Linked DNA regions of Homo sapiens: regions 1, 3, 4, 5 and 6 are each reported to be linked to region 2. The links are microRNA targets in miRTarBase. Many come from high-throughput screens and were not tested one by one. Region 2 holds a microRNA gene; each other region holds the end of a gene's coding sequence.
The links. The annotated mature microRNA hsa-miR-1224-3p reads CCCCACCUCCUCUCUCCUCAG and lies in region 2 at 1,760-1,780, opposite strand. An mRNA with a match to its seed (bases 2 to 7 or 8) in the 3' UTR can be bound and repressed. Matches are read on the target gene's strand: a 7mer-m8 pairs with bases 2 to 8, a 7mer-A1 pairs with bases 2 to 7 and ends in A, and an 8mer does both.

Region 1 (4,848 bases), not on the chromosome of region 2:
TGGATTGTGCACTCACTGTGTGCCAGTCACTGAGCTGCTGGGGCCCTGTGTGATCGTCTCTTTCGCCCTCACAGTAGCCGCAGCGCTGTAAACAGTGTTCCCATTTTGCAGATGAGAAACTGAGACTCAAATCACTTTTTTCCAAAGTCATAACATTAGCACTGGAGCTAGATTTTGAACCCACATCTCACAGACTTTTAGAGCTTGAAGGTTTAACTTCTGCCCCATGTTCCCATCTCTGAAGTTTAACAAAGACAGAGTGGCTGCTTTTAAAATCTATGCCTTTGCTATGGATTTTAAAGGGTGTAGCGGAGAGACTGAAAGCGGGCTTGGATTTTTATAAGTTGTTGAAGGTGGTGATAATTCTAGAGTGTAGGCACGGAGGGGGCCAGCAGGCAAGAGGCAATGGGACTGTAATGAAACAATCCCAAGTCTGGTGGGTTGGTTTGGGGCTGCTGCAGGGAGGCACGGGGGCAGTGAGGCTGGAACTCTGAGAGGCAGCCCCGGAGGTAAACCTCCATTCCTGACGGCACTCTTTTTTTGAGCATGGAAGAAGTCAGAACACGCGTTACCCCTTGTGTTAGCTCTCTGCATGAGTTCAGAGTATCCCTGGGTCTGAATTAAACAAATGACATTTTACAGATAGATTTTACAGATACGTTATGAGTCGATATTTCTTAAAGCATGTCTACCTTCCATAATGCCAGAATTCCTCCTTTTCCTTTGTGAGGTGAAGATGAATGTTAGAGTAGAAAGAATTGTAAACTCCTTGGTAGGTTTAAGCAGTTATCAAGTACCTTGAATGTGAGTAGTAAATTCTCACCCAAGGGCAAGGGTAGACCTTTTGAGATAGAAAGGGTGGATATTGGGATCCCGGAGCCCCAAATCCCCTGAGGTTGTCTTGGTGAGAGTGCCACGGGGTACCCTGTTTCTGGCAGGTTTTTCTTGGTGTTTGGGCAGCATGGTGCATCTCCCATGGTGTGAGCGTGGCTGGGAGCCCTCTTGGCTGTTACTACATCCAGCCTTTGTCTCTCCAGGGATGGGGGCCTGAAGAGGGAGAAGGTGAAGGACACGTTCAAGGAGGAGCAGCAGAAGCTGTACAGCAAGATGATCGTGGGGAACCACAAGGACAGGAGCCGCTCCTGAGCCTGCCTCCAGCTGGCTGGGGCCACCGTGCGGGGTGCCAACGGGCTCAGAGCTGGAGTTGCCGCCGCCGCCCCCACTGCTGTGTCCTTTCCAGACTCCAGGGCTCCCCGGGCTGCTCTGGATCCCAGGACTCCGGCTTTCGCCGAGCCGCAGCGGGATCCCTGTGCACCCGGCGCAGCCTACCCTTGGTGGTCTAAACGGATGCTGCTGGGTGTTGCGACCCAGGACGAGATGCCTTGTTTCTTTTACAATAAGTCGTTGGAGGAATGCCATTAAAGTGAACTCCCCACCTTTGCACGCTGTGCGGGCTGAGTGGTTGGGGAGATGTGGCCATGGTCTTGTGCTAGAGATGGCGGTACAAGAGTCTGTTATGCAAGCCCGTGTGCCAGGGATGTGCTGGGGGCGGCCACCCGCTCTCCAGGAAAGGCACAGCTGAGGCACTGTGGCTGGCTTCGGCCTCAACATCGCCCCCAGCCTTGGAGCTCTGCAGACATGATAGGAAGGAAACTGTCATCTGCAGGGGCTTTCAGCAAAATGAAGGGTTAGATTTTTATGCTGCTGCTGATGGGGTTACTAAAGGGAGGGGAAGAGGCCAGGTGGGCCGCTGACTGGGCCATGGGGAGAACGTGTGTTCGTACTCCAGGCTAACCCTGAACTCCCCATGTGATGCGCGCTTTGTTGAATGTGTGTCTCGGTTTCCCCATCTGTAATATGAGTCGGGGGGAATGGTGGTGATTCCTACCTCACAGGGCTGTTGTGGGGATTAAAGTGCTGCGGGTGAGTGAAGGACACATCACGTTCAGTGTTTCAAGTACAGGCCCACAAAACGGGGCACGGCAGGCCTGAGCTCAGAGCTGCTGCACTGGGCTTTGGATTTGTTCTTGTGAGTAAATAAAACTGGCTGGTGAATGAACTGGGGGACTTCTCCCTTTACTTTCTCCCCTGGCTGTGGCCCTGAGTAGCAGGCTTCTCGTGAGGATTCCCGTTCTCTTCTGGGAGCATGGCCCTGGGGCTGCGGAGAAGCCAACTGACTGCTGGAGCGAGGAACCCTGCAGCTCAGAAGGTGAACAGCTCGTCTCAGATGCTTGCAGATCTTTGGTTAATTTAGAATTTCCAGCACAGACGTGGATTTCTCCAGAGACGGGGTGTGTGCGGGTCGCTGATGTGAGGCCTAGGGGAAGCAATGAGTAAACTCCAGGGTGGGGGAGGAGCAAGGGCCCGGGGAGGGCTGCAGAGGGGCCGGGGCGGGGCAGGGCCTGTGCTGCATGGTGGCTTCTGCAGGGGAGGGACAGGGGAGGGCTGCAGAGGGGCAGGGTGGGCAGGGCATGTGCTGCATGGCAGCTTCTGCACAGCCAGAGCAGGCACCACAGGAAAAGAGTCGGCCACTGGTGCCTGCTGTACAGTCACAGTGGAGGCAGAGCCAAGGCCAAGCAGCCCCTGTGGGTTCTGGGGTTTCACCAGTTTCATGCTCCTCAGCTCCCCATTCATGCCCCACCAGCCCTCACTTGGGACCCATGCTCCCTCGTGGCACAGTCATGATGCCTCTCAGGATTTTGTGCCTGTGGTGCTGAGTGTCACGTCCCCAAGGTCGCCCTCTGGCCTGCAGTTCAGGGAGTGGGTGGGAGTGAAGCTGTGCTCCTGGGGCTGCAGACAGATCCACTTTGCATGTGGTACCTGCTGGGTTGGCCCTGCAATCTCCTTTTCTCTGCACCTACCTGTGACCTCCCTGGGAGAGCCTCCCATTTCCTCACCTGCCCTGTTGCCAGCCCGGGGGAAATCTTTTTGCTCTCAAATGAAGACTGAAAAAATAAAGTCAGTGTTATGACTAATAAGTCTCTTAGGAACTGTTTTACAAAATGCTTAAGAATAAAAAGTGATTTTCAGCTTTTATAGGTGATGTTTACAGTGTTTGTAAACCAACTGGAGGGATCAGTAATTGGTCTTAAAAGATCAGGTTCTCTTTTAAAAAGTTCATCTGAAACTTTATGGTTTGTTACTTTCGTGATTTGCATAGGTATTTATATATACACACACACACAGGTTTTGCTTTTGTCTCACATTCAGCACAGCTGTCTGCGGCCCCTGCCGGCAGGTGTGGCCGCACCTGGTGTGAAGTCACGTGGAGTCAGTGCTGTGGAGGGAAGTCCTGTGCGGGCCGGGCAGTGAGGAGAGCACTGATTCACGCCTGCAGAAACGTAACCTCCCCTTTCCGTGTATGCCTTTTACCATCATCCAGGCGACTGCTCCATCCTTTTAAATTAGGGGTCCTGCAAGCCCCAAGTGACCCATAGTCAGAGTATCTGGTTTGGGGTAACCGAGTTGGTCTTATGGGGCAAAAACTCAAGACACTTAGAAACATGCAAAGTACAAAATAATGTGTTCCCTCCTGTTACCCCAGCAAGGGTGGGGCTGAGCTGGGAATGACACCCAGTGGTGTAATGAGTGGAAAGTGCTGGTCAGCTGCTAACCCCCCTCCAAGCCTGCTGCACCTTCACTTCTCTGCATCCGTCTCCTGAGTCATAACTAGGGACTTGGCTAGATGACCTCAGAGACCTCGTCCACCTCTGAATTCTCTGTTTTTAAGCCCATAGTTCAAACTTTGGCTTTGATCTCTGAAGTCTTCTGGGTTTGGAAATACGGGAAGTCAGCTTTGAATCCATTGCTTCTCTAAAACATCAGGGCTAGTGGAACTAACCCACTTGAGGGTGACCTCAAGGGCTTTAGGCAGCCATGGGGCTGGGGCCATACTGCTCTCAGGCTGGGCAGTATCTTCATTGTGGTTCTCAGACAGCCTTTTTTACTCAAACATGAGACTTTCCACCCACCAGTTAGGGAACTTTTTTTTTTTTTTTAAACACGGAGTTTCACTCTTGTTGCCCATGCTGGAGTGCAATGGCACAATCTCAGCTCCACTGCAACCTCTACCTCCCGGGTTCAAGTGATTCTTCTGCCTCAGCCTCCAAGTAGCTGAGATTACAGGCATGCACCACCACACCCAGCTAATTTTTTGTATTTAGTAGAGACTGGGTTTCACCATGTTGGTCAGGCTGGTCTCCAACTCCTGACCTCAGGTGATCCACTCTCCTTGGCCTCCCAAAGTTCTGGGATTACAGGCGTGAGCCACTGCGCCCAGCCAAGAGGGAACTTTTTAATAAAGCTAGTGGGATTCCCTTGACAGCAGAACCAGCCTTGGGACTTGATGCTTCACCGTGTCAGAATCCGTCCCTGGTGCTGCCTTTCAGAGAAGAGGCTTGATGTGTGAGGGGTCAGGGGGAGTGCTCCAGATCCCTGAAATGCCCTTCCCAGACCAGTGACAGGCATTTTTGGGTGCCATCGTGTGACCTTCACGGCACAGCAAACAGTGGGCACTAACCCTGTTGTCCTGTGGAAATCTGGGTCTCTGAATCCTGCCATTTCCTTCCTGGAATTGGCCAGGAACTTGATTTTCTGGGCTATTGCTTGCTAGTGTCCCCTGATGCATGAAGGATCCCCCCATGTCATAGGTCCCACCTGCCTGCTGTGCATCCCGGGTGGCCAGACTCGGCTTCTCCAGGTGCACTTGTCCCAGGTGGCCCGGTCCGTAGGCTGGAAGGGCAGCTGCAGGTGCACTGCCTCGCGGACAGGTTAGGATATGGCCACGCAGCCATCCATCTTCTACAGCACGCACACCCCACTCTCTCCCCCAGTCAATATGTCTCTCTC
Region 2 (4,848 bases):
ATTTTACAGATGGAAAAATTAAGACTTCATGAGGTTAAGTAACTTACCAAGGTCACACAGCCAGTAAGTTAGGGGTTCAAACCCACAAGACCTTATGGCCCTAGGTATTACTCTCTCCATATTCCATATTTGGTTGAGGAGCAGGTCCAGAGAGGTTAATAAACTTGCCCAAAGGCATGCATCAAGGAATGGCAGAGCCAGAGGGCTATGTGACCTAAAAACTATTGCCCCTCTGTTTTGGGATAGTCCCCCCCACACACACTCCTGCCCTTGGCCTTGACCACCGCATACAGATCGTTTCTACCCTCTTCACCTCCAACTTCATTGGCATCTGCTTCAGCCGCTCCCTCCACTACCAGTTCTACGTCTGGTATTTCCACACACTGCCCTACCTCCTGTGGGCCATGCCTGCACGCTGGCTCACACACCTGCTCAGGTACCAGCTGGGACAACCTGGGGGAGTGGGAAGGGATAGGGAGTTCCTGTTGGGGGTTTATGTCTAGGGCATGAGGAGCTGCAGGTCTGCAGGCCTTGCAACTGGATGAAACGTGGAACCTGTTTCTCATCTCCAGGTTGTTGGTGCTGGGGCTCATCGAGCTCTCCTGGAACACATACCCTTCCACATCCTGCAGCTCTGCTGCCCTGCACATATGCCATGCCGTCATCCTGCTGCAGCTCTGGCTGGGCCCGCAGCCTTTCCCCAAGAGCACCCAACACAGCAAGAAAGCCCACTGAAGTCCACCCCTTTCCCTCAGGACCTGAGTCTACCCTCAGGACCTGGGGTTGGTTGGACTCTGCCCTTCCAAATAAACCTTGCTAAGTCCAACTCTGTGCAACCTACATGGAGGTGGGGGCAGCCGATGCCTGGTCCAGGCTGTGAGGGACACGTATGGAGCAGATAAAGAATTCACTCAAGCAGTCCTAAGAGGCACTTTATTGCATAGGATTTGGGGACTGTGGCTCTCTACCCTTCCACTGTGTTGCAGGGAGCTCAGAGGATGGAGGGGAGTGTGAGTGGGGTGGGAGGAGAGGGAGAGAGCACAGGCAGGCACTTTTTGTGGGGGCAAGAGGGCTCTAGGGAGGGAGTAAGAAGCAGTGGGGGACAGGCTGGCACCAGCCTACACTTTCCCAGCACCAAGAGGCCAGCCCTGGGCGGCAGTGACTTGAGTGTGTTGGGTGGGGCGCCAGCCCAAGCAGCAGGGGGCAGCCTTCACACGTTCGCTGGGCTGTAGCACAGCAGGTGTAGCTGCAGGTTTTGGTCCCAGTGGCGCAGTAGCAGGAAGAGCCCTCGGGCTGCGGCCTTGAGGGCGGCCAGGTCAAGGCCGTCAGGCAAGTGCTGGGCCCGCAGCCAGCAATCAGCCTTGGCCGCTGTCAGTTCCCACTCGTCGAAGGCAGCGGCGCATCGGTGCTCCAGCCAGGCGAGTGCTACGGCAGTGGCCCAGGTCCGGCCCCGCAGGTCGGTGCCGCCCAGCCCTTCCGCCCCCTCGGAGGCCTCGGTGTCTGAGCCCCGCCCACTGTCCACCTGGCCTGGCCCCTCAGAGCCCGAGCTGGGGGACGGGCTGCAGGAGGCCGTGGCACTGTCACCCTGGCCAACACCAGGGCCCAGAAGTGCCCAGGGCAATGAGGCCGAGGTGGGGCTGAGGCTGGCGCGGTGCACGGCAAAGGGCGAGGCACGGCAGAGGCGCTCCTGCGAGATGCGCACAGCGGCGCAGAAGGGCGCGTCCAGGCGGAAGGAGCCTGGTGCCTCCTGCAGCCGCACCTGAGGAGAGAGGAGGTGGGGGGAGAAGCGAGCTGAAACAGCGCCCGGCCCCGGCGGCACCACCCTCCACCTCCCGAGTCCTCACCAAGGGCAGGTAGTCATGGTCGCTGCCTTCACTGTTGTTGGCCTGGCCCGGGTCAGGGCTACAGAGTTTGTGACGGCGGCCCATGCTGAGCCGACAGGGAGGACGGGGAGGTGGGCGGCGAGGACCTTCCGTGGGAGTGGCAGGGTCCCCCAAAGCACGCTTGGAGTTGCCATTTTGGTCCGAGTCCCAGGCGCCTGCTGGAGAGCCTCTCTGAAGTCCTGCAGTGGGGATCATCAGTGCCAGGGGGCGGTCTCTAAGCCCAAGTGCCCCTACCCTTTCCCTACCTTTGGGTGTTACCTTTAGAGTAGACAACAGTGGGCAGAGGAGCTGCATCTAGATGGCTGTGAGAGGCAGGAGGGGTTCCTGGGGGCTCAGCGGGCTCTGCAGGGGCACATGGGACAGGAGTCAGGTTTGTCCAGGAGAGTGGCCAGTGAGGTGAGAGCTGCACCTGAGAGGTCACCAGAAGAGGCCCCTACCTGAGCTGCACACCTGCAGGGCCCCAGGCAGGACCTCCCTAGTAGTAGCATCCACAGCTACAGGGCAAGTGAAGCAGGAGGGGGCAGAGCTGACCTTACTTGTCTGAAGGGCTCGAAGCCAGCACCTCCGGGCATGGCCTGTGGAACCAAGGAGCAGTCTGTGGAGCCCCCACCACCCACCCTCTACAGAGGGCTCATAGAAAAAATTGCAGTGTTCTCCCCAGCTTCTCCCTCTATCGACTTTAACAGAGTAGATTGCCTTGCTAGGCCCAGAACCAGCTCAGACTCCCCAACTTTGACAAGAAGTGATCAGGCTGAATCTTCAACCCATAGCAGAGCAAGAGCCCCCTGGCTGCCCAGAAATTCAGCACTCTGGACAACACCCAGAGGAAGCATTAGCTGGCACATTTTCCTCCACCTGCTTCTGCACTAATAAAACTTGGAAATGTTCTCTCTCTTCATGATCCAATGTGGTAGCCACTAGTCACATTTGACTATTGAGTACTTCAGCTGTGGTTAGTGCAACTGAGGAAATGAACTTTAAGTATTTTCCTAAATGACAAAGATTTGTTTTTACGTTGTGGGTGCTGTGAATCATGACAGGATCACGTTGCCCTCTGTGCTGGCTGCTAGGAAGCTTGTCAGTTCTGGATCTGATCCTTGCAAGAGTATATAACCTCACAGCATGCACCTTTAATATAACCTCATTCTCAGTTTCCTTTTATTTTTACTTTTTCCCATTGTCCCGCTTAATTTTTTATCTTGTCTGTGATGAGCCTCAAATCCTTTGTGATCAAAGCGAGGTATAGAGAGTGATCAAACACACAGACCTCTACCTTTGCTGTTTTTAGCCCATGCCTTTGGGTCCTGACTGGACCCATGAGCAACTCACCCCGGTCAGCTGTGGTCTCTGCCCCTCCTCGGAGGGCCAGCTGCTCATTGTCCCGGACCACAGAGGCTGCTGTCAGCCGATGGAGTGCTTGGTCCCAAGCAGCTTCTCTTACAGGAGGTGAGGGAGGCTGTGAGCCATCTCCAGGTCCCCACAGTGTCTCCAGCCCAACACCCACCTCCCAGCACATGGGCTGCTCCCCACACAGGCCCCGGATCACCACATGGCAGCGTGGAGCCTGGGGAGGCACTGCTGGAGGGGCCAACTCCCCACTAGGAGGCACAGCCGTGAATAAGAAGGGTGGTTCCATCAGCATGTCCCAGTCCATAGGGGCTGGGGAGAGCAGGTTTCCTGGGGAGGCAAGACAGCAGGGGCATGGGCAGAGTGGTCCTCTGGGCTTTACCTCCCCAAGGCCTCTTTGGTGTCAGGGAAACCAGCTCCCCATCCAACACTTACCTGAGTCATCCAGGCCTTGTCCCAACTGTTGGCCTGGCTCAGGACTTGGGCCATCTAGTATTGCACCCAAAGAGGGTTTCCGGGGTCGGCCGGGGACTTGGTTTGCCCGGCCTGGAGGGGATGAGAGGCTTCGGCCAGCCAGAGCCGCTCTGTGCTGACGGCCCAGCACCTCAGTACTCAAGGCCCCCACCTGCATGTGAGATATGGGGGCCACTGGTCAAGGAATGCAGAACCCTTGACCATCATACATGGGTGCACAGCTGGCCCATGCCCCTTTTCTGAAACCCTGGGTGGCCGCTCACCAGCTTGAGGAGGAAGGCCAAGTTCCTTATGGCCTACAGTGACCTCTGGCCTTGGCCCCTTCCCAGCATCATCCCACTCCACTCCCTATTTCCCACTTGTGGTTGTTGCTTGTCTCTGTATTTTCGTTTATGTCTTCTCCCTCTCTGCATGGCTAACTCGTGCTTATTCTTCCAGATATGGCTCTGACTTTCCTGACTCTCTCAGGCAGAATTAGTCACCCTGACTTTAAGCCCCCTTAATACATGTCCTTGTGCTCATCACTGGTTGTTACATGGTATCGTTGGGGATTTACCCACCTTTCTCTCTAGCTAGACTTAATAGTAAACTCTACATAATATCTGGTGCACAGCAGGTGGTAAATAAATATTTGCTGGATACAAGGCGAATGAATGTGGGTTGGATCTCACCTTGAATGGAGCTGGTGTGGGTGCAGGCAGGGGACAGGAGCGGGAGCCTGCAGGTTCTCCCCAGGCCAGACTGCGGCAGCCCTGCTGAGAAGGGGGCTCCAAGGGAGCACTACCTTCGGGGGAGCCAGGGCCCTGTGAGCCTGGGGACTCACTGCTGCCTGTGGAGCCTGGGCCTGGCTCGGGGCTGGCAGAGCAGTGGGTGAGCACATACTGCTCCCGAATGTACGAGGACTGAAAGATGCGGCGCCATATGGCTGTGTCAGAGGGGTTGGGTCCAGGATCCGTGACTGGGTCTGTCAGAGCATCAGTACCTGCTGGGAGGCAGTAGAATGGGCCCTAGCCCTGACCCCTCCCAGCGCCCACTCCAATACAGCCACACACATACACCTGGGCACTCACTCTGCTCCGAGTCCCTGGCAGCCCATGGGCTGGACAGTTCTGCTGAGACAGTGCCTGTTCCCAGTGGCTCTGAG
Region 3 (4,848 bases), not on the chromosome of region 2:
CTTGAACTCCTGGGCTCAGCAATCCTCCCACCTTGTCCTCCCAAAGTGTTCAGATTATAGGTGTGAGCCATGGCACCTGGCCTTTACTTTTATAAAATGAATCTCAGAAAATGAAAATGTGATATTCCATAAGGGCAGTGCTGTAAGCCTGGGAATCGCAGCCAAACGGGGCAGGGTGAATTTTAAGTGCCACTGGATTTCCATTTCAGTTTTGCCTCTGGGGTGGTCTGAGGGGAATGTATAGGAAGGAATTTATGTGGATGAAGGCAATAATTACCTCCCCCACCACAGGGCCGGAGCCAAAAAAACTGTCATATATGCTTTCGATAAGAGGAACAAAGCTGGTTCCAGAGAGCGCCCTGTCTCAAGGTGCTGAAAGTCTCTCCTCCCACTCATGCCATTACTAAGTAATGTTCAAAAACAGCTATTCCTTGAACATTCTTTTAGATTCTCTTGTTTACATCTCAGCCATATCTAACTGCCCTGTATAACTAATGTGTTTTCTGCTTGAAACACTCTAGATCTCTGAAGATCCCTTCCAGTTTTGTGACTTTATGATTTCTGGAAATAATTAAAACCAAATGAGAAACACGTTATGGTGGATTGACCCCATACAAAATGACATAAGATTCCAAATGCTTAATCTCAAACCATTTTGCTATTGTGAAGATACACTCAGGCAGTAATGTCAAGTAATGTCATTCGTTTGGAGGAACCAAGAACATGTGGTTGGTTTTGCCCCATCAGGTAGAGAACAACTCTGCGTATGATATGTGTAGATCTGCCACTTTCTCAGCGCAGGCATGTTAGGCATTATTTGTAAAAGCTGCTATATGTTTAAGTAATAGAGCAAAAATATATGTAAAGTGCAAATCCAACAGGGTAAAACAAGAATTATGAGAGTTCACCTAGACAGAACAAGAGCCAAGTGCTGGCGCCAGCTTTTACTCCTAAGGAATGGAGCCTCCATTTCCATAAAATGCTTGGAAGACACCCAACACCAGCACATATTTCTCTACAAATTACAAAAATGGGGGAGACACTTAATGCAAAACGCAAGAATTCACAGTATTACAAACACACAGTTGGTTTGCTAAACGCATTTCACCAAATTCAAGCACCCACACAGATGAGAGAAAAGGAAAGAGCAATGGATACCTTGACATATCTGGTTTTCTGATGATGATTCTCAACACCAGTGGGCTGTGAAGTGGCTTCAGCCTCTGAGTGGCTCTGTGGGCTGGGAGGGAGAAGGTAGAGTGGCGTGCAAGGTCACAGGCCAGAGCGACTGTAGAGGACATATGTGATCTGACGGGGACACTCTGCTTCCCGAATGAGGTCTGAACGCATCTAGACCCATCTCAGAACCCATACAGGCTTGCTGGGCGCCTGGGCCTTTGCTGCCCTAATACTGTGTTCCTCTCTCTGCCGGCAGGCCAAGCTCAAAGTTTAGGAAGGGAAAATGGAGTGATTCAGCTCTATTACTCATTTCCAACACACAGTCCTATATTACATACAACTTAGTAAGTGGCTGCAGCTTCTAGTAATAAACTACAAAATAGATATTTGAATATTTTAAATTTAATTCCCTTGTTAAAGTTCTCTCAAAGAGCAATCATGCAGAAAAGACTCAAAGTAGTTACAACAGTTTTGACTGACGCAAGCAAGGGTAGTCTGGACCAGGGCAGCGAGGCGACAAGTGCTAACAGCCTGTGCGGGGCATGCGTGTGTGCCTCTTCAGAGCTCCGGTCACATGGGCTGAGCCGGTCTGATGGCTCAAGTGACAGCTTCCATGTACCGTGGCTGCATGGGGCACATGCACTGGTCCTGCTTCCCAATGCTGGGGCAGCAGAATCACCTCTAGCAAGGCCCCATCCCAGGGAAACACACGTAGGGGCAGTACCTGAGGACAGCTTGTAGTACTTCCCCCTAGTTAGAGAAGTAATGAATGATTGTGAGGGCAAAAAACGGCTTTCCAGGAAAAGAGGGAAAATAATAGGGAGGATTTCAATTTCACTCCCATGTGTATTACTGCCAAAAAACCTGTAAAATCAGAAGAGAGCAAGACACTGTGGGGTGGGGCTTGGGTCGGGAAGGACAAGCAATTGGCCTGTGATCCTCAAGAGACTGGTGAGCTCCCTGATGCTCCCGACACGTGAGGTTGAATGAGCTGTGCGTGTAAAGTGCTTAGGAGGGGCAGGCACCTGGCGCAGGCTTGCCATTAATTTTTATTCTATTTTTACAGGTGAAAATAAGATTTTTAAAAGGGACTTCAATATCCTGAGCTGAATCACTACACACAAGAATATTTCATTTTCTCAAGCTTGACTGGATTCCCTTAGAAATAAGAGTTCTTCAGGTTCACTTTCTAAAGTCCTCTTTTCCATTCCCACAGAAACATAGCCTGCACTGTAGGTACCATTCTGTCTCGGACCACCCACATACCGTTTTAGTAAGAAAGTGTGCAAAGTGTTCTGATGAAACACATTAGGATAAAATGTTTAAATATCTAGTTTTTAAAGGGATAGAATACAGAGGGCGAGGAATACAGCAGGATTACAATCTTGCCGTAATGAACATGTTCAAGTTCAGAGATGATGTCACACAGAAAAACACAACTTAAAGACACTTATTTTCAGAGCATGTATGGTGGGGGTCCCCAACCCTGGGCTGCAGATGGGTACTGGTCCATAGCCTGTGAGGAATGGGGGCACCCATCAGACGTGAGCAGTGGGCAAGCAAGTGTTACTGCCTGGGCTCCGCCTCCCATCAGATCAGCGGTGGCGTCAGATTCTCACAGGAGCAGAAACTCTATTGTGAACTGCGCATGCGAGGGATTTAGGTTGCGTGCTCCTTATGAGAAGCTAATGCCTGCTGATCCGAGGTGGAACAGTTTCATTTTGAAACCGGTCCCTGCTGCCAACAAGGTTGAGGGCCGCTGATGTAGGATTTTGTGTGTGTGTCATTTGTTTTCATTGTTACGAGTGAGGGAGAGCTGCGTCAAAAAAGCTAAAACAAGAGGCTCAGGAGGCTCCAACTGAATTCTAAATGATCCAGGCACTGATCGTTGAAGCTCTGAGTTAAAATAATCTACTTCTGTGATAACCATGGTTGGGAGCAGCTTTCTCACAGCATTTTTTTTTTTAATGTGGGAAAGACAGAGGCAACTGAGGCAGAAACACAGTCTTTTCTACTTCATAAGAACGTGAATGAGGCAGACATTACAAACAAATCGCTCTTCAGGCAATTCCAGCAGCTGGCTGGTGAATCCACATGATGAGTTTCCAAATCTCTCCACTGAGGAGGACATGAAAGCAGAAACACTGGGAATAAATAACATAAATACATCCCCTCCAGGAAAGGCAGAGAAGGTGCAGGTAGGTGCAGAGGGAAGAGAAGAAAAAGCCGCTGGCCACGTGACACATGTTGAAGTAAACACAGAAAGTATAATGACCAAAATACTCTGAGTAGATACCTCCCTTATTTCTCTGACAAAGCAACAAGTAAAATGGGGTGTTGAAAAGTATAAAAATTAAACACCCCACACAGATTTTTCGGTACACTCAAAACAATGCAGCACAGCCAGACTGTATAAACCATTTGTTAAAAAAATAGCTTCTTTTATATTGTATGAACAAGTTGGAAGAGTCCCCTTGCGAGTGCTCACTGGCCAGGTCCCCACTGTGCACATGGGTAATCTGCAAATTCATTCAGGGTCTTTAGTTTCTTTCTTACTTCTCACATGTCTGCTTTACCACTCTGGTAATGATTTGGGTTAAAACAACCGTTTCTTTAGTAAATACTATCTTTCTGATTCCTGGGAGAGTCATCAAGACACGACTGGGGTCATATCCCACAACTGCAAAAAGAAAAAGAAGATACAGAATGAACTAAAATTGTGTTGAGGATAACAGTCCTTAGAACTGAATTCTTCAAGGAAATTTTTTTCATTTAACAAACCACCACATACTATACTAACATGATTTCCAAATCTGTAAAATATTTTTTTCATCAAAAAAGTTCAAATAAAGCTCAAAAACAAGACAATGACAGCTTGAAATTTTGATGCAGCTCATGAAGAATCATGGCAGATTCAATCTATTAATGGCTGAGAGGACTGGGAAGACAAGCTACACTGCAGATCCTCCTGTGAGTCACTAAAAGGGAAATGCTGCAGAGCACTGTGTTTACATCTGAGGCAGCATTCGATGAGCCAACATGAAAGCGACAATATAGATTTGTTCCACCCTCCAAATAGATTGAATCCATTAAATAACTCAATCCATTAACTGGACGCCAAGCACGTGCTGTGTCCTTTCCATTTAAACTTCCAAACCATTTTACAAGATACCTCGTTTTCAAAAATAAAGGACCTGAGGCTGCCAGAGTTTATCCTATTTTAATTAATTAATTATTTTGAGACAGGGTCTTGCTCTGTCACCCAGGCTGGAGTACAGTGGCACAATCATGGCTCACTGCAGCCTCGACTTACTGGGCTCAAGTAATTCTTGCACGTCAGCCTCCCAAGTAGCTGGACTACAGGCAGGAACCACCACGTCTGGCTAATTTTTGATTTTTTTGTTAAGACAGGGTCACACTATGGTGGCCAGGCTGGTCTTGAACTCCTGGGGTCAAGTGATCCTCCGTCTCACCTCCCAAAGGGCTGGGATTATAGGCGTGAGTCAACACACCCAGCCCCAGAGTTTATTTTAAACTTCCTCTCAAAGTCACGGAGATCTGGTAGCTTCCAAAGTGGGTTATTTTAGCTATCTCATCCTGCTGTGACCTCCAAGAATGGGTCAGGGAGGTAGAGCTCAGTGTGCTATAAATTCTCATATGTATTACCGT
Region 4 (4,848 bases), not on the chromosome of region 2:
GCCATGTGTCTGGTACTTTCCTCTGGCTTCTGGCCAGATATGTGGTTCTCCCAAGCCATCAAGATAGTCAGGTAAGAATAGCACCAGGCAGCGGGAAGTATTCTCCATCTGTTAGACTGAAAAAACTGCATGGTTTCTTCCCTCATCTAAACCAAATCAAATAAAATATTCAAGCAACAATAAAATATAGCGTAACTCCGTCCAACTGCAACAGAAGCTCATCCTGTTTTTCTGGTCTTGACTGTATGATCAGATGCATTGACCTCTATGCACTGACCTTCATAGCTTGCCACTGCTGAGTAGGGCCTTTGGAGTTCCTAGCAGGGCTTAGAGCAGACTGCACAGGTCTGGCAGGCATGGCTGGGTGGAGAAGAAACCAGACTTCCTAGGACCGGAAGCAGCAGGCGGCAAGAAAACCAGCCCAGCAGGCACACGGGGACCCAGAAACTACTTTTCCTTGGAGGTTTTTCTATTTTAGTACATGTATCTATCTCCATTTTAAATGTTCCTCAGTGAATGACCTCCTCTGGAAGGTGTGAAAGAATATCCATTAGCAACCACAGGAGAATCTTTTTCCTGGGAAAATTCCTCAAGAGTGGTGTGACTACCATCCCAGGGACCAGCTGGTTGCCCTTGTGTGGAACGTTTCTGCAGGCTTTTTGACTGTAAGGGCTGGGAAGCCCTGCCATAGTGTGAGTGAGGGGAAGCTGGAGGGCAATTACTGGACACAGGGCAGTGGAATCGGGGGACTGGAATGTACAGATGACACTCAACCAATCTTTAAAAGTCAGCACTAGAGCGAGTTATTCCATGATCAGATGGTGAGAAGGAAGTGATTTTTATGGAGGGGCACGCTCCCTCCTGCTAGGAAGACGTTAGCAACCCTGTCAAATGATTCCTTAGGAGCTCCTGGCTTTCCAGTTATTATTTTGCCTGTTAAGTGTTCCTAGCAAGCTCCTCGGGGGGACCGTGAGAGGAGGCTGCTTCCACTCCTTCGCTAGCTGTGAGGAAAGCCCGCATGCCATGCTGTGGCCTTCTGGAGCCCTGTCCCCCAGGGTGCCTCAGAGCCAGCGTTCCCTGAGAGCACACAGCCTCAGCTGAGAGAAGACAGCAAACCCTGTCCCCTAGAGAGGCATTTTTGCAAAATGTGCTTACTTCATAGGAGGGAATGATATTGGTAGAAAAACAAAACAAAACAAAACAAAAAACAAAACAAAACCCAAACCTTCTTTGTCTCTACGTAGGAGTTACAAAGATCTGTCAATTTCAGCAGAGAGAGACTTTTCATCCACCCTGGGCATGTTCAGCTGAGATGGTGTAGGAGTTTGTAGCAGAAGAGAGAGAACTCTAGCATTCACTTTCTAGGTTTATTCCATCCCGTACATTTTTGTATTCTGTAAATCCAATGATCTTACCAGGAAATCTTTTCATTCACTTGAAACCAAACAGATAATCGAGGGGCTGGATCTAGTGTTGTATGTACAATGCTTCTTTAGAGCACAAAAGGCAAATTAAAACTAGACTGAGTTTTCTGTTCGGTACTATATGAGAATAATTAAAATTTTAAAAGACGACACAACAGAATTCAGAGCCATCCTGCAACAGCGGTCTTTAAATTTATACCCAATTGCTGATAAAACTCAGCCCTGGAGTTGTCTTCCTGTTATTCTAACATCTTTTTCACATTCATCCTAAAATCTTAGGAAAAAAAATCCAAAATGCAAAGAGTTTAAAAAACTTTCTTTTTTTTTTCTCTCAAAGCAAATAGTTCCATAAAACACTAGGTCAAAGGGCCTCAGTGTGTGTGTACTGAGTTTGAAGGGCCAAGCAATAATCTATAAGAGTGACCTATTAGCAATATATTTGCAAAACTAAACCAAAATCTGTACAGGATATTATCAAAGCCTTAGGAACAACAGAACATACATATTTTATGAAGTGGTTGGAGAACCATCTCCCCTTTAGTAGTTAACGTACTGATGAGTGTCCCCATTTTCATAAGCAAGGACATACTAACACTAAGCAGTTGAAAGGCCTGTCTCAGAAGCATCCTGCCCCAGGTAGCTGATCACGGTGGCCCCATACCACGACACAGCTTTTCTTTTGGTTGGTCTTGCTGAGTGCCTTCTCTAGATTTGGGCTGTCATTCAAGCCTCTTCATTTACAATGTTCATTAAAAATTCGGTACCATACCTGTCCCACTCCCAACCATTTTTTACTTCCTGATTCTTTTGTTTGCCTTGTGGGTAAAATGCAAATGTGTCCAAGGTGAAAAAGCAAACCAATCAACCTTTGAGTTTTTTTTCCAGCGCCAGGAATGTGACATGAACAAAGGTCACTGAAGCAGCATGAGGAGTAAGTTAGCAGGGCCCTTTGTTGTGTGTGTATGAGTGTGTGCCTTTACCTAAGCTCTGTCCCCTTACAGAAATGGCCGTAGAAGGCCTAGTGTGCTGGTTGCGAGAGGTTTTCCAACGTGATTCTTACCCCAAATCATAACAGGTTCATTCTCTGAGGTTCACCCACCTTCAAAACACACAGACAAGGGCCTTAGTTCAAGACTAACACTGAAAATGTCACAGACATTTTCACGCATTGGACACACGACAGCTTCCAGGAGCTTGTGGGTCTATTCGTTATCAGAGATGCTACAGACTTCTTAACAGCTTGTGTTAGGGAACTGTTCTTCTTTCCTATCCCCGGAAGTGTTGCACCCATACACACAAACCCACATCTAAGAGTGTCTCCTCCACAGGCTGAAAAGAACGCCTCTTGGAATGTCAAGCATGAATATAAAAGGGTTTCCCGTGACAGTGATCACTGAATCATGGGGAAGGAAGCTAAAAGGCAAATTTGCAATTCATCACATTATCCCCTGTTGTCTCAAATGTGATTCTTTTAAAGGCAGGCTGCATATACACTCTCTTTTTGAAGCATTTTTTTTTCTTCTTGTAACACATTGTATATTCTTGTTTTTGTAGAATATTCGAATGAGGATAAAATGATGAAAATTACAATAGGTTAATTGCATCCCTTGTATCACATATTTTTGGTGCATTAAAAAAGGAGAAAAAAAGTAAAAGCAACCAGCATAATAAATCCGGCCTAGAGAACTGTGTTAGTGACTTGAAGGGTTAACACAGATTTTAGAAGTAGTTAAAAATAGTATTAGAGGATTATACATACAACAGTTTGAAATTCATATGGATTGTATTTTTTTCTTTTAAAAATGGCAAAATGTTTTTGGCAAATGTAAGCAAATGACTTGGACTGCGTTGGGTCTCACCAGCTCTGAGCCGGGTCAGTCATAGCCAGGCGAGGCCTACTGCTTCCTGAGGTCACTCTGTGGGGCTGGGGGAAGGTGGATGCCCGCCACTGGGAGGTGCTGGCCCCCCACCTGGCTCCCCCTCAGGCCCTCAGTCTTGAACATGGAAATGGAGCTGGTGAGAGGTGCCAATTACAAACTCCAGCACGGATCACCCATTAGCATCACTGAGAGAACTCTGGGGCCTTGAACCACATGCAGACTGGGTGAGTCGTCTACACAGTGACCCATATTGCGAAAGTCAGAGAGAGGAGTGGTGCTTCCACCCCTCCGACTTGTGCGCCCGCCCCCACCCCCACCTGGAGGAAGAGGGTGGCACGGGGTGTGTCACTAGTGCTTAATCTGGCAATGTTTTCAACTTGTGGGTTTTTTTTTTTTAATTTTTTTTATTTTAGGAAACTTCTTTTAAAAAATGTTTTCTGTTTTGTATGTGTATGTGTATCCAGAAATGTCCATCCTCCAAGCTGGCCACCACTGTTCCCTGAATTTGGCAGTGCCTGTTGCTTGCAGCTGTCAGCATCCTGAAAACCATGAGGTGCCTTCAAAGTAGACTCTGTGGCCCAGCCGCGCAAGTGGCCTCCAGGACCCTGCCGCACGATGTCATTCTCTCCTTATTCTGAATCCTGTCTGGCTCTGATGCTGAGAAAAAGGACAAAGTCGGTGTGTCTGTCTGCGTGTGTGTGCATCTGTGCCTGTGTGTGTGTACTGAGTTTTGGTTTTTTTTGGAACCTTTTTTTCTTTTTTTAAGAAAAAAATGACCCTTGGATTACTAATACAGAGTTCAGCCCTCCTTTAGTCACTATAAAACGGACTCCATGTTTTCACACCACTCATGGTCTTCCAGGTTATAGATAAACTTTGTCCTATGTGTCTGGTTTGCGGGCACAGGGTCCCTCCCCAGGTTGTCTAGGGTCAGAGTAGAGGCAAAGAACTCACTGGTGCTCAGCCCGCCCTCGTGGTTTTTGATGTAGCGTTTATAGTTTTTCCTCAGGCACTGCCACGTGGTGGTGTACAGGATGAAGGCGAAGGATTTGAGCGCGATGGCGATGCTGACATACAGGTATCGGTAGACCACATTGTCGTAGAGGACGCAGGCGCCTTGCTCCCCACAGAACGTGCTCCAGAACAGGCAGGTGGAGTCGATGCCAGCCCCGAAGATGAGGGGTGGAGGGATGAAGCCTGTTACCGGGAAAAGAATGTTAAGGTTCTGGATCTGGTGGCCAGTGCTCCCCTGTTCCTGTCTCTGCCTAGCTTTTCTTATAGCACTGCTAGGCAAATATGTCTGACTCCGTGGCTCAAAGACATGCTCAGGAGGCAAAGCGCATGAGTTTGTGTCCCAGTTCTGCCTTTTTATTATGGTACAAATCTGAGCAAGTTATTTAAGCCCTCCTGCCTTAGTTTCCTCATCTGCAAAATGGGGATGATGATAATACTACAGTCTTCACCAGATGGCTGTGAAGACTAACTTTACACATAGAAAGCATCAGTCTGGCATGGTGGCTCACACCTGTAATTCCAGCACTTTG
Region 5 (4,848 bases), not on the chromosome of region 2:
AGCTGGGTTTTTAAGAAGTCAAATTTCATTGGTATGCCCCAGATAACACCCTCACTCCTTCCTTTTCTCTTTCCCTCTCAGACTCTCTGCAGAATGAGAGCCTCATCTCAAATTGTCTCTGCCCATACAAACACAGAACTTTTGATAGTTTTATTGTTTATACTTATAGACCTGACCAAGCAAGCTCCTCAAGATAGGGTTGTTAAAGGGCTACAGCCAACCTGATTCTCTACATCTGAAACAATAATTACAGAGCTCTTCTGGAATAATCAAATCATAAAACTCTACCTCGTAGGATGGAACAGAAACATTGGCTCAGCTAAAGAGTGGGTGTTTTCCTTAGATTGTGGAATCATGGCTGATGGTTAGGACCTTAAATATATCGAGGTGGCTAATTGATGTATAATAATTTACAAAATTATTCTTCTATGCTACAGAGCTACAATTCAATTTACAGTAGTAAATATGAGGGCCTTCTTAAGGAACCAGAAATATGAGGATATGCACAATATTATTCACATTTTACAGATCAGAAAATTGAGGCACAGATTAAGTAACTTCCCAAGGCTACCAGGCATTCTAGCTCCAGAAACTGTGCTCTTACCATTCTGCTACAAGGTATTTCGAAAAAAAGAAAAAGTAAAAAGAAGTCAAAAGGCAACAGAGTTCATTGATTATTCCATAGAACAGTCACACCATGCAATTCTCACACCCTTGCAGACACACTTGACCATGAAAGGTTCCTCAATGAAATGTTCCTCATTATCTTCAGAAGCCATATTATTCACATTGACTTTGCAGTTAACTCAGACCCTAGGTCTGGAATGCTGTCTTCTCTACTTATCCAAAACTATACATCCACAGATCATATAAACTCTCAGCCCTGCTGCAAAGCCTTTCCAGAAAAATAAAAATGGTTGAAAAGGCAATTCTGCTACCAATGACTGTTTAAGCCCAGCCAAGTAACTGAACCATTCCAACTTCAATTTACTTATGAAAAGAATTTGATGATGTAGGAGGTTATTTCAATTCTAAAATACAAACCCATGTTGATCTTTCTCAATCTTGAACTCATAGATTATTATCTATTATCTCAATTTAGTTTGTTATTTATCCTAGTGGGCCATTAAAAACTACCACATGTGTTTCTGTCTCTCCATTAGTCAATAACTAAACTAACGAGCAATTAGTAAGCCATGTGCCAGATGCTCCGCTAGGCACCAGAGGGATAAAAACAATACTTATAGTATACCACTAATTTTCGCTTAGTAACTAGTGAAATGTTCAAGTCATGCCTGAGTCAAGAGTTGAGGAGACATTACAATGTGTAATGGAAACCAAGGAAAGTGAAACTTTGGATAAGTGGGGACTAGTGTATTTATATATTTAATTGATTTCTGACTCTATCATTGGCCTCCAAACACAGATTGTGTTTTTCTTTGGTTTTGTTTTCTTCACTATGGGATCTTCTGTGCCCAGCACAGTGCCTGACACATAGAAAACAATCAAATATTTGCTGAATAAATGATTAAAAAATCAGAGAACTTTCCCATTCTGTTTGGATCTATAGAACATCCAGAGTAAGTGATGAGGGCCTCTGCATTTATATGCGCTTAAATTAAGATTATGTGAGAAAAGTTTAAAGACACTTAGTAGAGTGATTTTGAAATATAGTAAACACTTGGAAATGGTGGTGCTTTAAAAAGATATTAATAGATAATATGAAAATCTCCATCTCAAAAATAATGCATAAACTATTTAAAGGAAAATCACATCTCCAGGCTTTCAATGTTTGTTCATTACTTTTTCATATATTTTTACCATCTGCTGAAGGCAGTCATATCAAAGGGTAAAGAAAGATGGGAGGAAAACTCAGTAAGAATTATATTAGTCTGTTTGCAAAGTAGAAAAAGATTCTCATCACTCAACCTTATGAGCAGGAAGAGGGAAGGCTGTTTGAGAACCATTTACTTAGCAGAACCACATATTTTAGACACTTCCCTGCATTAACTGCACAAACAATATGTTTGCAAACTTGTTAGATCAACCTCCAACAACGACACATTCAGGAGTTAAATATTTTTCATCAAACATTGGATTTTTCCTTAACGCTAGAGATTGCTACAAATCTTCTGAAGGGTCTCAATGGCTTCAGGCTAAGAAGAGATTTCTCCCTGTTATAAGCAGCAAGACAAATTAGCCATTTCACTCTCAAACTTCACTAATGATCACATTCTTTCCAAAAGGAACTCTAGAAGACCAAATGCCCCGAGTTAAGAACATCAAAACTAACCATCTGAAGAAACTTCCCAAGTGTAAGACTCTGCCATTAAAACATTACCGAGAGGGGACTCAAACAGTCTTTCTTCCTTTGTCGTGTTTCTTGCTCCCAGACCAAGGCACTGACGACAGTACTGATACATAATTTAAAAGCACACTCCCTTCCACTTTGTAATACCAGAACTCTAATTGGACACCCTGAAGCTTAGGACTACCAGCCATACAAATAGTAAACTCTGTCCACGATTCACTCATCTGTGTATTTTCTATAGATGTTTACTAGGCGTTTGTTATATAAAAATACCCCGGCCAGGCACGGTGGCTCACGCCTGTAATCCCAGCACTTTGGGAGGTGGGTGGATCACCTGAGGTCGGGAGTTCGAGACCAGCCTGACCAGCATGGTGGAACCCCCATCTCTACTAAAAACACAAAAAATTAGCCGGGCGTGGTGGCACATGCCTGTAATCCCAGCTACTCAGGAGGCTGAGGCGGAGAATTGCTTGAACCCGGAAGGTGGAGGTTGCGGTGAGCTGAGATTGCACTATTGCACTCCAGCCTGGGCAACAGGAGTAAAACTCCCCCCCACCCAAAAAAAAAAACAACAACAACAAAAAACCAAAAAACCAAAAAACCAATGGTAAATTACACTCTTTCCCTTTCCCCAACACTCTCTCTCTCTCTCTCTCTCTTTCACACACACACACACACACACACACACACACACACACACACACACACCAGACCGATTAGCTAACTTAGTGGAAAAGACACTTAGATTCCTTCTTCATATGTGAATTTAGCTCACAGGACTAGTGAGGGAATATCATTATCACGGGAAGACACAGAAACCACACAGGACTCTGAGCCACTCCTAGTTTTACCCCTCCTTAGCCTGTGACTTGGCTTTTCTGCTCCATCATCTACACAAGAAGAATAGCAGTGACTAGCACCCACAAGCCTCTCAGGATAGACTTGGCAGGCAAGGTAACCCACCACTTAAGAGCACAGGTTTAACTCCAGGCTGAATACTGCCCTGGTCATTTCACTAGCTGTGTGACCTTAGTATCAATATGTCTGGTGCATAAAAAATGTTAAATGATAAGCCCCTGTCATTTCTCCTTTAAAAATTGCAAAGCACTCTACGAATATTCACTTCTATTATCTAAAAATGCACATAAAAAAGACACCCAGTAATAGAATATTCATCAAATGCTCTCTCAGTGTCCAGCATCATCTCCTTCCTTATCGCCAAAGCCAGCCTGCCCTCCCCAGATAGGATGCCCACATCTCCCACATGCTTACAGAGGCGAACAGCCAGCCATAATTCCATTCGGCAGCCTTTGAAGACTCAGCCAGCTGTATCAGTTAATAACCTCACTAAAGGTTATCCATCAGAAAGAAGGGAAACAAGTCCTAACTACTCTCGTCAGAGAAGTCATTAGATCCGTACATGGCTCCTATACAATCTGCCTGGCATTTATGGAAATAGCACACACCATAGGAAAATGTTGCCAAAGCAGACAAGTATTTAACCTAAATATTCAATAGTCTACTAATCCATTTCCAAGGTAATCTATCTTCAGAGCCTCTTTCTGATTCTGTACAGTTCTGACCATTTATTGTTTGCTCAAGCTGTAAAACTTTTCTTTGGGTTCCATAGCCATTTCAATAAATCAAACTTGCCTTTTCTCCCCTTCCTGTTAAATAGTAAAACCATGTAGAATAGTTCCTAGACTAAGTGATTTAACCTCATTCCTATTTGTCAGAAGCAGGCTTCACTGATTTTTTTTAACCCTCTGATTGAAAGTCTTCTTTCTAAATGAGAATACTATCCTTGGAATATTGGATTTCATTATTGGCCCGTTTCTGTTTAATCTTGGAGAAATCTCTACAAAAAGGAAACTATATTATTTTCTTTCCAGAAATTTAATACAATTGTTCCATACACTTTAGAGTGTGACATGGTTCAATCTTCCATGTTTATAAGCACTAACAGATACCAATATGTGAATAAAACGCATGATCTAACTTCTAAAAAATAACACCTAGGATCCGTTATAACAACGTGCTATGCTGTGGTCGGACAGACAAATAAAAACTGCATGGTGTGGCCTTATCCCTCCTGAATAGCATATCCAGACCAACATTTGAAGATGTCCACCATATCTTGTTTTAAAAGGTTTTCTGTGCCTACAAAATACTTATATAAAATGACTGGAAGATTTTTATAGGAAATTTCTTAAATAATTTATCATCAGAATGAGTCATGTAGAAGTGCCAAGACTAAATTAACATACCCTTCAGATGTAATGGAAATCCAGTCTTTTCTCTGGGGACTCATCTAATTCTCTCTTCTATAATTTTTGGGAGAATACAGTAAAAGCATTTAATACAGTAATGGTATTAGCAAAACAAGGACTTATTTAAGAGGCTTTACCTGGATCATTACAAGTATTACCGAATTATAAGATAAAGGGTGTTGGCTTCTGGAGATTATTAAAAAGTTGATATAGAAATTCCTCATTCAGAGAGAAGAGGGATAAAACTTATTATTCTAAGCCAGAAAG
Region 6 (4,744 bases), not on the chromosome of region 2:
CCAGGCTGGTCTTGAACTCCTGACCCCAGATGATCCACCCGCCTTGGCCTCCCAAAGTGCTGGGACTACAGGCGTGAGCCACTGCACCCAGCCATTTTTTCTATTTCTATCGTTCCTTCTACATTTGTGATTCCATTGTGTATGGGATTCTATAGTGTATTTTTAGTCAGTGGACTATAACCCATTATTGTCATTATTTTATTGCTCAAATTGCCCAAGATTTGGCCACTGAGGGACATTCAATTTGGTTCCTGTGTCCTTTCAATATGTCCCCCATGTTCTCATTACCTACCATATATTTGTTTTCCCCATCCTAATACACACATAAAATACTTCCTGAATTACTAACTTCTGCTTCTGTGAAAAATTTGCTAACTAGACTCTGGTATTTGTGTACAGTTCCTTTTCTCTTTCTAGTATCCCATCAAAATGCTATAACTTCTTATTTTTCTTGCCCACCTCCTTCAATGTGGTTGTATTATGCATCTGAAATACAGTTAAGTTCATTTGTTACTGTTTGTATTTCATTTTGAACTCTCCTCATATCCTGGTTGACTTTAATTATTTTGGGGGGCATGAGAAACATTACTATGGCTCCAAGACTCACAGTTATACAAAATATACTCAGATACACTCGGCAGTGTTCCATCCCTTCCTCCTTTACACCGTTATGATTTCTCCCTTCTTTCTACTCTAAACCCACCTACCATCCATAGACAGCTCATTACTTTCTGGCCAATCTTTCCTTATTTACTTTGCATAAACAAATAGATACATGTGCTTTCTTACATCTCCTTCTTTCTTACATACAAAGTACCACTTTCTACTTTTTGTACTTTGCTTTTTGCATTTAATATATCTTGAAAATAACTATACCGATTCATAGAGATCTTCCTCATTTTTTTTATAGCTCAATAATATTCCATCATGTGGGTATGCCATTGGTGCCATGGTTTACTCAGGCTTTCTCGTGTATATGAACATGACTTTGCTTCCAATATTTGCAGTCTCAGTGCTGCAATGAGTAATCTTGTGCATCTGTATGTTTGTACTGTTGGAGGTGCATCTTCAAGGGAAATTCCCACAGTGGAAATGGTTGTGTCAAAGGGTAAATGCTTCTGCAATTTGTTAAGTACTGACAAATTCCCCTCCAGAAGTCATACCAGTTTGCATTCCTACCAACAGTGATGACAGTGTGTTTCCCTATAGCCTTGCCTAACAGAAATGTGTTGTTCTTTCTTTCACCAGTCTTAGAGATGATAAATGGTATCTCAGTATTATCTCAATTTACATTTCTCTAATGAGTTAGTTTGAATATTTCATTTTAAAGAGCCATTTTTATATCTTTACGTGAGTATGTTCATGTCTTTTCCCAGTTTTTCTATCAAGTTTTTGGTCCTTTGTCCCTTAATTTTTAATTCCTTATATAGTAAGAACACTAACTGTTTGTCTATTATATAGGCTGGATAAATTTTTCTCCCAGTCATTTGATTTTATTGTGTTTTTACTAAGCATTTTTATTATCTTCATGTAGTCAAATGTGTCAATATTTTGTTGCCACTGGATATTTCCACCACGTTTCCTTCTGTATTTATATGGCTTCATTTTCTTACATTTGGATCCTGGATCCAGATGGAGTTCATTCTTGCATATGGTGTGAAGTACAGGTCTAACTTCAACTTTCTCCAAGGGGCTTTCCAGTTGGCTCAGCACCATTTATTAAAGTCTGCTTTGACCTGCGATTGAAGATGCCACCTTTAACTCCTCATCCCCCACCCCTAAGAAACCTCACGGAACATATGACCCAAGAGCAGAGCAGACATAAAAAGATTAACTGAGCTACTGAGATTCGGTCAAGAATGTGAACTAAAAATGAACTGTTGAGAATAAGGCTGGAAGATCCAACAGAGGGAAACGGCTGTGGAGGTCATTGCCAGGTGAGGTGTCAGATCCCCGGCATTGGGAAGTGGTCAACTCGTGGGTTGGTAAAAAGAATTCACCAACAACAGTATAGGTTTGAAAAAGGAAAGGTATTAGAAGAATGCTGCAGAAGACTGCCATGGGGCACCTCGGTGAGAGGACTGAATGTACCACGGTGGATTTTTCCTTAGGGATATTTATGGACCTTAAAGCGGGACCGTGGGGTTGCAGTGAGTTTCAGCATGGCATTCCGGAGATGTACAGAAATTTTAGTTACTTCTAAGGTTTTTTTCGGGGAAAAGAAATCTGGAACCAGATGCCTGCTTTAGATAATAGGAAAGTCTAATTACTTTTAATTTTCCCCAAATAAGGCGTTTTGCCTCTGCATGGCCTGATAGTCACCAGGTGGTCTTTGCTCCCTTTTAAATTCCTCAGATAAAAAGATTTTGTCTCTGGGACCTGTTCAATGGTCACTAGGTGATTTTTGCTCTCCGCAGTCATGATGTGATGGAAAGCAAAATAGCAAACAAGGGAGCTGGATGGCGATGAAGCAGAGACAACAAGCAAGCTCAAGCTCCTGCAGAAGGGTCCGTCCCTGGAATCACCTCGGCTCACCTGTACCGTTCCAACAAACCCTTCCAACCAAAAGAGCCCCACCCCAAAAATGCTTTTGAAATCCTGAGATGTGATCAGTGAAATATGCAGCCAAGGCAAGGGGAAACTGTCCGCAAGTTAAAAAGATTTATTGCTATTCCAGGCTTCAAATGAGCCCAGAACTCAGGGCTGGTGTGTGTTTCAGAAGTTGTTATGATGTAACAGGGTGGTAGAAAAATCCAGGCAGTTTGATGTCGAGGCCACCCTCTCTTCCTTGGACCCCTGCTCCAAAAGCAGCTGCTGGTGAGGCTCTTTCCCATCTGCCTCATTCACCCAACAGGACTCCAAGACTGAGGCAGGCAGCCTTGTGATCCCCACAGCTCACAGGTGAGAGGCTGCTCATACCTCTCCTAGCACTGGAAGAGCCTTGTCCTTGGGACCGGACACTATGGCTTTGGCCCTGTGGAGGGAGAAACGGTGCCACAGGAGTTGTCTTAAGAGGACAAGGCATGCACGGTCTGAGATCAGAGGTTGTGACGTGGCCACCCATGAGCCAGTCCGTTTGGGACACATCACACTGCACAGCTTTTTAAAAAAATAATTAGCTGCCAATCTTTTAAAATGGTAAGATTTCATATACAAATCTGGATTTTTGGCTTCTCTAGGAGTAAACATTGAAACTTTTTTTTTGAGACAGAGTCTCACTCTGTCACCAGGCTGGAGTATTGCCAGTATCTGGCAGTTGTCTTCACAGACTGGCTATGCACTCTCCAACTGACTCCAGTCCTTGCCACCCTTAATTATATTTCCAACTGGAGACCAGGCCTCAGCAGCCTTGTATCAATGGGCACATGTGCTGTGACTTTCTGTGTAAGAAATATTTACATTGTAATAGCATCTTTAATCAAAAAGGAAAAATCGGCTGGGTGTAGTGGCTCATGCCTGTAATCCAGCGCTTTGCAAGGCCAAGGTGGACAGATCACGAGGTCAAGAGATCGAGACCATCCTGGCCAACATGGTGAAACCCCATCTCTACTAAAAATACACAAATTAGCCGGGCGTGGTGGCAGGGCCTGTAGTCCAAGCTACTTGGGAGGCTGAGGCAGGAGAATTGCTTGAACCCAGGAGGCGGAGGTTGCAGTGAGGTGAGATTGCACCACTGCACTCCAGCCTGGTGACAAAGTGAGATTCTGTCTCAAAAAAAAAAAAAGCGAAAAATCGAAATCAAGCCTGGAAGCAACATGTTTCTCACGGTTCTTATCAGTCATTTAAGTCTCTTGCTAGGCCCTGCGGGTACCTGAGTTTGTAAACAACAGAGCACTCCTAATATCTCCCCCAAGGGATTCCTCCCCCACACACCCTACCTCTCCAGGATACACTGCACCCTAGTATTAATTGGGCAAATCTAGAAAGGAAATAAAAATTAGTCACAGAAGTTAAGGGAGGAATAGACTAAGAGCAAATACTTTTGCCCCTTCATTGTAACAGGGGGCCGGAGGAGAACAAAAACGTTAATACTCTCACTTCGCTTTTAACTTAGTGACAAAAAAAAAAAAGAGTGAAAGAGAGAGAGTCATAAAGATTCTTCAGGTCCTAAAACACTCTGGTTCCCATTCCTTAACTGCTTTGGAAATGAACGAGGCTCTTTAGAGAGAATGTTAACGGGGATGAGTAACGTGGTCAGCCCAGCAGATGCCCTGGGCTATCAAGAACTGTCCAACTCATTCTCCCTTAGGTCAGGGCTGCTTGCCCCAGCCTAAAATGTAAGTGGTACAAAATGATTTTCAGTGAGGGTAGTGGACTCACTGTAGAAAGGGGATTAAAGGGGGGCAGAGAGTGGGAGTTTGGCCTTGGCAAACACAAAACAGAGGAAAAGGGACCTTCCTCACACCGCTCCATTCTGCTGTGGCAGATGCCATGTTATATGCCCTTTAGAGAGGCAGCGATCTTGATGCAGCCCAGACGCTTCCCACTGCTGCTCAGGACGCTCTCTATGCGGTAGTTCCCGGTGGTGAGCCAACTGGGCAGCTCCAGGTCAGGCACAACGAATTCGCTCTTGGGCAGTGAGTAGGTTCCCTGCGGGAAAGCCAGTGGACCGCCAGTCAGTGGGAGCCTACTGATGGGGTCTTTCTCCTAGAGCCACTGCTAGGATTGCAGCCATGAACTACCACCCCTCTTCCCATTCTCAAAACAGCCGCACAAGATGAGAGACGGCCATAGCACTGTAGAG

Region 1: miRTarBase lists GPAT4 as a target of hsa-miR-1224-3p. Seed matches in the 3' UTR shown: 7mer-m8 at 1,741-1,747 and 7mer-A1 at 2,764-2,770.
Region 3: miRTarBase lists WDFY2 as a target of hsa-miR-1224-3p. Seed matches in the 3' UTR shown: 8mer at 26-33.
Region 4: miRTarBase lists SLCO3A1 as a target of hsa-miR-1224-3p. Seed matches in the 3' UTR shown: 7mer-m8 at 3,617-3,623, 7mer-m8 at 3,390-3,396 and 7mer-m8 at 2,519-2,525.
Region 5: miRTarBase lists PBOV1 as a target of hsa-miR-1224-3p. Seed matches in the 3' UTR shown: 7mer-m8 at 2,631-2,637.
Region 6: miRTarBase lists GM2A as a target of hsa-miR-1224-3p. The part of its 3' UTR that is shown has no 7-base or 8-base seed match.

The regions. Positions count from the first base shown.
Region 1 is chr8:41,619,856-41,624,703 of GRCh38, forward strand. GPAT4 (glycerol-3-phosphate acyltransferase 4) reads left to right here. Exons shown (of 13, transcript NM_178819.4): 13 at 1,038-4,848. The coding sequence ends at 1,146. Among named protein-coding and RNA genes, the nearest start is that of NKX6-3, 29 kb to the right of the region's middle. RefSeq lists an enhancer at 3,146-3,245.
Region 2 is chr3:184,238,401-184,243,248 of GRCh38, reverse strand. It overlaps MIR1224 (microRNA 1224), which reads right to left and starts at 1,844; the gene lies at 1,760-1,844. VWA5B2 (von Willebrand factor A domain containing 5B2) reads right to left here. Exons shown (of 20, transcript NM_001390846.1): 13 at 4,775-4,848; 14 at 4,376-4,686; 15 at 3,666-3,855; 16 at 3,213-3,560; 17 at 2,321-2,458; 18 at 2,142-2,225; 19 at 1,845-2,062; 20 at 920-1,759. The coding sequence ends at 1,211. ALG3 (ALG3 alpha-1,3- mannosyltransferase) reads left to right here. Exons shown (of 9, transcript NM_005787.6): 8 at 292-436; 9 at 573-948. The coding sequence ends at 735. RefSeq lists a silencer at 1,034-1,328.
Region 3 is chr13:51,758,751-51,763,598 of GRCh38, reverse strand. WDFY2 (WD repeat and FYVE domain containing 2) reads right to left here. Exons shown (of 12, transcript NM_052950.4): 12 at 1-3,859. The coding sequence ends at 3,830. It also overlaps a transcript of DHRS12 not described here. Among named protein-coding and RNA genes, the nearest start is that of DHRS12, 43 kb to the left of the region's middle.
Region 4 is chr15:92,162,409-92,167,256 of GRCh38, reverse strand. SLCO3A1 (solute carrier organic anion transporter family member 3A1) reads right to left here. Exons shown (of 10, transcript NM_013272.4): 10 at 1,354-4,501. The coding sequence ends at 4,122. Among named protein-coding and RNA genes, the nearest start is that of ST8SIA2, 230 kb to the left of the region's middle. RefSeq lists an enhancer at 1,861-2,618.
Region 5 is chr6:138,214,013-138,218,860 of GRCh38, reverse strand. It overlaps PBOV1 (prostate and breast cancer overexpressed 1), which reads left to right and starts at 370. Exons shown (of 1, transcript NM_021635.3): 1 at 370-2,875. The coding sequence starts at 466. The coding sequence ends at 873. The region is part of intron 4 of ARFGEF3 (ARFGEF family member 3); the gene reads right to left.
Region 6 is chr5:151,267,142-151,271,885 of GRCh38, reverse strand. It overlaps GM2A (ganglioside GM2 activator), which reads right to left. Exons shown (of 4, transcript NM_000405.5): 4 at 1,446-4,590. The coding sequence ends at 4,435. Among named protein-coding and RNA genes, the nearest start is that of GM2A, 16 kb to the right of the region's middle.